2 linked regions of the Homo sapiens genome follow. The protein of the gene in region 1 purifies or fractionates together with the protein of each later gene. This does not show direct contact. Each region holds a gene or a part of one and is shown on either strand. Other genes may lie near its edges.

Region 1 (4,549 bases):
GCTCCGAGAGTGGCCTGGGCTGTGCCTCCTAAGAGAACAGCCGAGGTCCCCGGCGGCTCTGGGAAGCTGCCCCTGGGCCGGGAGAGCGGGAGGCGGCGACGCAAGGACGCGCCCGGAGCCTGGGCGCGCCGGGGGCGGGCGTTTGGCTGGAAGTGGGGCAGTGTCTCCTATGGGAAAGCGAGACCCGGCGAGCTCTTTGGCTGCTTTTCCAGTTTCCGAGGTGCCCGCCCCCGCGCGCCTGAGGCAGCGCAGCCCGGAGGGCGAACGAATGGCGGTTGGCAAACTTTGAGTGAGAGTGCGCTCCGGATCCGAATTGCCGAATTGTGGCTGCGGCAGGGTCGGCCGAGACACAAGTTCGCTTTTTCCGCCTGCCCGATGGGCCTTAGGGAGACTTCAGCTCCAGCTTGGTGGAGCGCCTCGCCCGAGGGAGTTGTGTCACTTTGCTCAGGGGCAGGGAGGGCGGCGCCCTGGGCGGGTGGGGAAGGGTCCCTGTGGCCCCTGGGGTCCCAAGCGCCTCTTCCCTCGTCTCCCCTCCCACCGGCCCCTCCCAGTCTTCTCTGCCTCGCTCCTTCCCGGGGCTGGCTGGACCGGCGCGGACTTGCCCCAGACCTACGGGGAGCGCCCCAGGTCTTTAATGACAGCTTAAATGTGGCTGTTGGAAAAGTCGAAAGGGATGTGGCTGACGTGGGGCGTGTTTCGCTCCTTTGCAAGAGTCGGAAAGGGAGTTGGGAGCCGCGCGGCTGGCCCCAGGCCCCCGCGCCTCGCCGCCAGCAAGTAGGTGGGGGAGCCGCCGCCGCCGCCAGCCCCATCCCGCTCCCAAGCCTCGCCCGCTGCGCCCTGGCCGCGGGCGCCGAGAGGGTGCGGGGCCTCGCCGTGCCTCCTCCACCCTGCTCATTAACCTGCCTGCTCCGCTCCGCTCCGGGCGGCCCCAGACACGGGTTTCCCGCGGCAGCACCCGCGGCCCGCCCGGCGCAGCCGCCGCCCCGACCCCCCGGCTCCGGGGGGCAATGAGGGGGCAGTGGAAGGGGCACTGCTCCTCGGGCATTACTTAGAGAAACGAGACCGTCCCGCCCTCTCGCCGGCCCTCCCTCTCTCCCGCCCGGGCCCGCGCAATTCTCCGCCAGAGGGTAAGTTGGGAGTGTTTCGCCCCCACCGACAGCTCTCCCTCCCTTTCCTTTTTTTTTTCCTTCAAAGTTTTCTTAGAAGTGGGAGCCGGGTGGGGGAGGAAGAAGGTCTGGTCAGCCTCCGTCCTTTACCCTATCTCTCCGGTCTAACTTGTCCCCCCCTCCCCCCTCCCCTCCATCCCCTGCGCGCCGCTGCCCCTCCGGAGCTGCGCTCGGGAATGACAATTGGAGCGCGGCTCCTTTAAGAGCCCGGCTTTGCCTCCCGGTAGCTGAAGGTCATTAAACACAAAAGCTCTCAGCGCTGCGGTCCAATATAGCGCATGCGCCCTGCCCGAGGACTGGCAGAGAGACGGCAATATGGCGAGAATGCCTGGCAGCGGGGACTGTAACACCAGCGCGGGCGGCAGCGCCAGCGCTGCCGCCGCCGCCGCCGAGAACAATGGGGAGCGGGGCGAGGGCGAGCGCGGCGCGGGGGGCCGCGGCCGCCGCCACAGCCGTCCGCACTACTGCAGCGCGGGCGAGGAGGAGGAGGAAGAGGAGGAGGAGGACGAGATCCAGGAGGTGCAGATAACGGGGGACGAGGAGGAGGAGGAGGACGGAGGTGGGGGGCTGGAGGAGGACGAGGAGGAGGAGGAAGAGGAGGAGATGGGGCTGGACTGGGACGAGCCCCTGGAGCCCGAGGACTCGGCCGGGGAGGAGCTGGAGCCCGAGCCGGTCCATATGATCAATATGGACCAGAGCGCCGCGCTGGAGCCCGAGGCGCCGCCGCGACTGCTGGCGCCCCGGGCCCGCGGTGGGCCGCCCGGGGACGGCTCCGAGCTGGACCCCGACGTGCTGCAGCGCCCCGAGCGGGCCCGGCTGAGCGAGAACACCCGGCTGGCCACCCGCTACGCCGTGCGCATCTTCCGGGAGTACCTGAGCGAGAAGGCGCAGAGCCCGGACTTCGAGACCATGGACAAGGGGGCGCTGTGCCGCGTGCTGCGCTCCTTCTATGCCGAGGCCCGCTCCAAAAGCGGCCAGCTCTACAGCAAGTCGTCGCTCATCAGCATCCGCAGCTCCCTCAACCGCTACCTCAATGAGCCCCCGTACTGCCGCACGCTCGACCTCACCAAGGACCCCGAGCTGCGCAGCGCCAACCTGACGCTGGCCGCGGTCATCCGCAAGCTCGAGGAGCAGGGCGCCGGGCCGGTGGTGCAGAAGCAAGCCATCACGCGCGCCGACCTGCGCAAGCTGTACACCTCCAGCGTCTTCAGCACCAACACGCCCTTCGGGCTGCTCAACAAGGTCTGGTTCGAGACGTGCATGTACTTCTGTACCCGCGGCCGCGAGAACCAGCGTGAGTTGGAGGAGGACTCTTTTGGGCTGGCCATGGACGAGGACGGTCGCAAGTTCGTCTACTTCAAGTCCCTCGGGCCCTACCACAAGTCGCGCTCGTCGTCGTGGAGCAAGAAGCGCGCCGAGAGCAGCGACGAGGAGAACTTGCCCCGCATGTATGAGACGGGCACCGAGTTCTGCCCCTACGCCAGCTTCGTCAAGTACCTGTCGAAACGCAACCCTCTCTGCAAGGCGTTCTTCCAGCGGCCCCGGGACCACTGCAGCGAGGGCGATGTGACCTGGTACGAGAACAAAGCCATCGGCAAGAACTTGCTAGGCACTCGGATGCAGATGCTCTCCAAGGCGGCCAAGCTCTCCAAGACCTACACCAACCACTGCATCGGCGCCGTCTCCATCGCCACGCTCAACAGCATCGCGGGCATTGGCACCAAGCTGGGCTCGCCCGCCCCGCAGGGCTGCTACGCCGAGGCTCTGAACGGGGCGGCACGGCACCACTCCCACCACCCCCCCACCCATCCCTCCCACCACCACCGCCCCCAGCCGCCCTCGCTGGGGAACACTTACATCCTCCCCAAAGACAGCCAGGTCGGGCCCGACGTGAAATCCGAGGCTGCGCCCAAGCGCGCCCTGTACGAGTCTGTGTTCGGGTCGGGGGAAATCTGCGGCCCCACTTCCCCCAAAAGACTTTGTATCCGCCCCTCGGAGCCTGTGGATGCGGTGGTGGTGGTTTCCGTGAAACACGACCCCCTGCCTCTTCTTCCAGAAGCCAATGGGCACAGAAGCACCAATTCTCCCACAATAGTTTCACCTGCTATTGTTTCCCCCACCCAGGTAACCAAACCAAACTCTATGCATGAAATGTTTCTTTGGTACCACTTCGGGACTAACTTTTGTGCTAATGCAGCTCTGGGTAGGGGGGAAGTTTTAAAAAGTAGGTAATGTACTGAATCGGATTTCGTTTCACCCTTAGAAGTTAACTCTCTTGGTGCTTTTTGGGAAACTTTACACCTAACCTTAAAAGATGTGAGAGAGGGCATGCTACCTAACAAATCACTGCTGTGCAGTAAGGCGAAAAACTTCAAAGTTCGCCGAACAAAAGGATTAGCTCACTCTTGCAGCCGCTCTTCATTGAATGCATGAGTTTTATAAGGCAAAGACTGCGAGAACACTGTAAATGTAAAGGAAGCAGTTACTTAAGACATATTTGAATCAAGTAACCCTTAAAAGACTCTATTACGTATTCGCCATGACCTTAGAAGGTAGAAAAACAGTTATAAATTATTGAAAAGAAAACGTGCCAATCCCACTTCCTGTAGCTTTTTTTTTTTTTTTTAAAGAAAAGGGGTGGAGAGTGGAGAGCCAGGCAGTTGAGTGCCAGTTTATACTGTAACATGTAGTTGAATGTAAACTGGCAGTGTGGGGTGCAATTTCCATAAACTAAAGTGGGAACGTGGTATCTGCAATTCCAGTCAGGCTACAAATTGGAGTATGGGCCTGTGGTGCCCAGCACTGTGGGCACTGAAACATTGCTGTCTCCCCCTAGCCCCACGGAGCTCACTATCTAGGGGGCAGATAATACCTACGAAGTAGATAATTAGAGTAAGAGTGCTATCCCAGCAGCTGAGTCAGCATGGACAAATCACTTCACTTCTCCTTGGCTTCACTATCCTCATCAAAGAGGAAGAAACTATTTCCACCCTAACATGATTTAAGTCTAAGCAGTGCCAAATTCTGGGTCGAGACTGGGGCCTCTAGTGTTAGATTCTTCTTTCCTTATTTTCCCCAAGGTAGTATTTTCGTGAGTATTATTAAAGTTATATTCATGTTTTGGACACTCTCTAGTCTAGGAGTCAGAAACCAGGGGTCTTTGGACACTGTGTTCTATTCTGCAGGCAGGAGTACCCACTGGAGGTTTTACAACTTTGACCTGCCTGCCATCAAGCAGAAGTAGGAATTTTGCAGGTCTGAAGGTATAGTGCAGGCCCTCCAGGAACATATGTCAGGTACCTCTGTGCTTTTTCCAAAGTGGAAATTCCAGTTCTGGACACACTGACCCTTTCAAACGTTTACCAGCTAATGGGCAAGCCTCA
Region 2 (3,807 bases), on another chromosome or scaffold:
ATCACCGCATGGTGATAATCACCGTCAGGCTTCAGCACCAAATGAGATAGGCATTATTATCCTCAGGAGACAGATAAGGAAACTGAGGAGGTTCAGACAGAGTCAGTCAGGTGTCTAAGGTCACAGAGTTAGCACACGATGGAATAAGATTTGCCTGGTTCCCAGCACAGTCCAAACTCTGGGTTGTTTGATTTCTTGATTTGGGTAGTGAGCAGGACTGTAGCAAATGACACTCATATGTCTACACACGAAGTAAGTTTCCAGAGGAGGTATGGCTTTGCCATCTGTTTGTTTACAGCTCTCTGAACGCACTGCAGCCCCACTGGAATAAACACTTCCTCCCTCAGCTTTCCACTTGGTGTCTGTCCTGTGGCCTCACACAGAGACACATTCTATCAGCCGGTCATCAGGATCGAAACTTGGTCACCTTTATGGCAATTTTTTCTCTCTTTCTAGTTCCAGTTCCTCCCAAATCGGTGACTTCTCTAATGATGAATAAAGACGGCTTCCTGGGAGGCATGTCTGTCAACACCGGCGAGGTGTTTTGCTCCGTCCCAGGCCGTTTGTCTCTGCTCAGTTCAACTTCGAAGTACAAAGTAACTGTGGGAGAAGTTCAGAGACGGCTGTCGCCCCCTGAATGCCTCAATGCATCTCTCCTCGGCGGAGTCCTCAGAAGGTAACCCCACCACGAAAAACAAAAACAAAAACAAAAAAACAAACAAAAACCCACCAGTTTTTATTTATTGGACAGTGAGGAGAAGGTTCCAGCAAAACCCAATCTGCAGTCTGACGCAGTTGCCTAGCAACCGGGTGGCCGGAGCATTGCTTTCGCGCAGCGCTTGGGAGGATCCGCGGCCGCCACCTGCTCGCCCACAAACTCTAGTGTCCTTGCATCCAGGCCTGCCCGCGCCGCGCAAGTCCTACCGCAGATTTTGCCGCCCTGGGAACCTTTCACTTTCCTGGCCCTGCGCCTGGCGCCTCTCTTCCTGTCACCCCTAGGACATCTCAGGGGGCATTCTCCAGCCTGAGTACAACGCGGAACTAACAGCCCCCCAGCCCCCCCACAAAAAACCCCATAAGTTTCATGAAGCAACTCTCTTCATACCTTCAGTGTACTCTTTCTCTTTTATTGCATGTTTTAAATGCAGTTGGCACCCAGTGAAATTGGTCTTTCAACCTGCTGATGCACTGTAACCCAGTTTGATAAACTCTTTTTCTAAATTTGTGACATCCCTCTTTCAATAACACCACCACCAATAATAGCAATAATATCACTTTAGAAGTATTTATAGGTATTCCTGGGAGCCATTCAGGTGCTTCACAGTATTCCACAGCCCAGAGACTGACTCCTCCTCGTGGAAATGTGAGAGAATGTGGATTTTATCTTAAGATGTAATGCCTCCCTTGAAGTCCCTGCCAATGCCTGAACACTTTGGCAGTGTCCCTGATATGAAAGTGACTTTGTCTGAGACAAAACTTTCCAAGATGACCCCTTCTGGGGGTTGACAGTCCTTTTCTTTCCTAAAAGTGACTGTATGAATAGTACAGCAAAAGAGATTACAGTAACTGAGGATTTTTACTTGTACTTTTGTCCATACTTTAGCACATACAAGGAGAATCTTGGGAGAAATTAAGGGTGTGACCCAGGAACTTTCTCATTTTGAATCCTCTTCCTCTGCCCTCCTTTGATTCAGTTTTCAAGTGAGTGCTTTGAGCCTCAGAGTGTGGAAGTTTTCAATCACCCCCTGAACATTAAGCCTGTATATATAAATTTGCAGAGATGAAGTAAAATAATCAATATAAAGTGCTTATCACATAACTACACTTCCAAAAGTGTTAGTTTTACTGTTATTATGATCATCACCATTTCGATTTCAGTCTGCCCTCTCCTTTTAACATAACACCATATACAGCAACTCTTGACCCCTTCCTCACAAAGCCCACCTGTTGCAGCAAGTGCGCTCTCCTCTCTAAGCCACCTGGCTCTTATCCTCTTTTCAGCAAGGTTGTGCTTGCCCAGTTTCTGCTCACCTCACTAACTCCATGACAAGGAAGGAACATGCACGTGCATGTGCAGCTTCTACCTTCTCTAGACCCATAACCTACACCTAATTATTCCCATCTGGTATCCTTTTTTTTTCTTTTCTCACAAGATAAAAAAAGAACACTCAGTTAAAAAAAATTCTCTGTATTGCAGAAATTAAGCAAACCTCAGCAAACTATCAGCAAATAACCAAAAGGAAGGGGGAAAAATGTGCTAACCTCAAGTTAAAACCTCTTCAAGCTCCACTGGGCTTTAGATTGCTAAGTCTAAACTTTGTTTCAGGAACACTCTAAGGTTAATCAGAATGTTAATTCTTGCAATTTCAGAGCCAAATCGAAAAATGGGGGGAGATCTTTGCGAGAAAGGCTAGAAAAAATCGGTTTGAATTTACCCGCGGGCAGGCGCAAAGCAGCAAATGTCACGTTACTCACCTCCCTGGTGGAAGGTAAGCAAGACGTGTGGCCATTTCACGAAGTGGCTGAGCTTAACTGTCGGCTGGAGGCTGACATTTTACACATTTCATGATTAACTGGAAATCGTTGTGATTGTTGTGCTCTTATGAGCTGGATGTCAAGCGGCTTCTTGAGAGAGGTTCAAAGGTCCTTTTACTTAGAGGAAGCCAGCAGTTGTAGACAGGGCAAGGGAAGTATTTGAGAGTTCCTGTGCTCTGAAAAGTGCTCAGGTCCAGCCTCCAAGACAAAGCAGGGGTCACTCCTGCTGTCACGTGCAGGACATCCTCTATGTGAACTCTTGCAAGAGTAACTCTTTAAGCAATAATTCATTCTATACCCCTTCACCTTGCCAGATTTGAATTGTCAGTAGTAGAAAACACATTGCATTCATGACCCCTAATGGTTATTTTAAAACTTTTGTCACTCCTAGGGCCAAATCTGCAGATTACCTGGGACATGTTGTTATTGAAATATTGATAGCTTAGTAAGGCCAATGATAGCTAGGGGAAGATTGGGGAGGAGGGGTGAAGAAATATGTAGGGGAGTCAGGTATTATCTTCAATGTAGATTCATCAATTGTGAATTATAGGGTGATAATTGCAATAAGCACCTTATAATTTGCTCATCAGTTTGGGTTTGGGGATGATATTTATGGTATGTAATAAACAAAATCATCTACACAGTCCAGAACAAGAGGATCTGCAGTTGAATTTGTGGGAAATAATATGAAATACAGTCAGATGGTCCTAATGGAGGAAGATGCAGAATTTTCTCTAGCATCTAGCTTGTAGGTCTTGTGTTTTAATTCCATTTGTATGGGTGTAATATTATGATGCTCCTGTAGAGAGTTGGTTTTAGAAGATGGAATATTAAAATATTTAGGCAGCAACCATTAATCATCACAGTTACAGGCCTTATACTTGGCCATTTTTAAGGCAAAGTTGCTTGGCCTGAACACCCTCCAGAGGCAGGAATCACTGAAATTTCCAGACCACACTTACTAGTGGTTGACTCTTAGCCTGGAAGTTTCACATTTTACCCTTCAGGGAATTGCTAATATCATAGTCCTCATTTTGGAAAGCAATCAAGGTAACCTTAGCTCAAGACAGGGATTTCAGGGGAGAAGGGAGGAAACTGGAAACCCCACTAAAATTCCAATATTTGTTTGGCAGTTTTTGGTTTTGTGACTCCTTGTAAGCACCATGCCTGAAGTCTTTTGTTGTTATGATAATAATGATTAAAAGTAAGTCATCCTCCTTAAAAATAATGTAGCTATGGGGTATTTCAACATATCTGTTTTTCATGTATGGG

What was found.
Region 2: the proteins of KCTD1 (region 1) and TFAP2B purify together in Homo sapiens (affinity purification with western blotting, with the first as the bait; one study listed by BioGRID). This does not show direct contact.

The regions. Positions count from the first base shown.
Region 1 is NC_000018.10:26,545,469-26,550,017, reverse strand, and holds the start of KCTD1 (BTB/POZ domain-containing protein KCTD1), read left to right. Parts: upstream 1-1,464; 5' UTR 1,465-1,481; coding exon 1,482-3,290; intron 3,291-4,549. UniProt on the Homo sapiens protein: May repress the transcriptional activity of AP-2 family members, including TFAP2A, TFAP2B and TFAP2C to various extent.
Region 2 is NC_000006.12:50,835,605-50,839,411, forward strand, and holds part of TFAP2B (transcription factor AP-2-beta), read left to right. Parts: intron 1-456; coding exon 457-676; intron 677-2,370; coding exon 2,371-2,489; intron 2,490-3,807.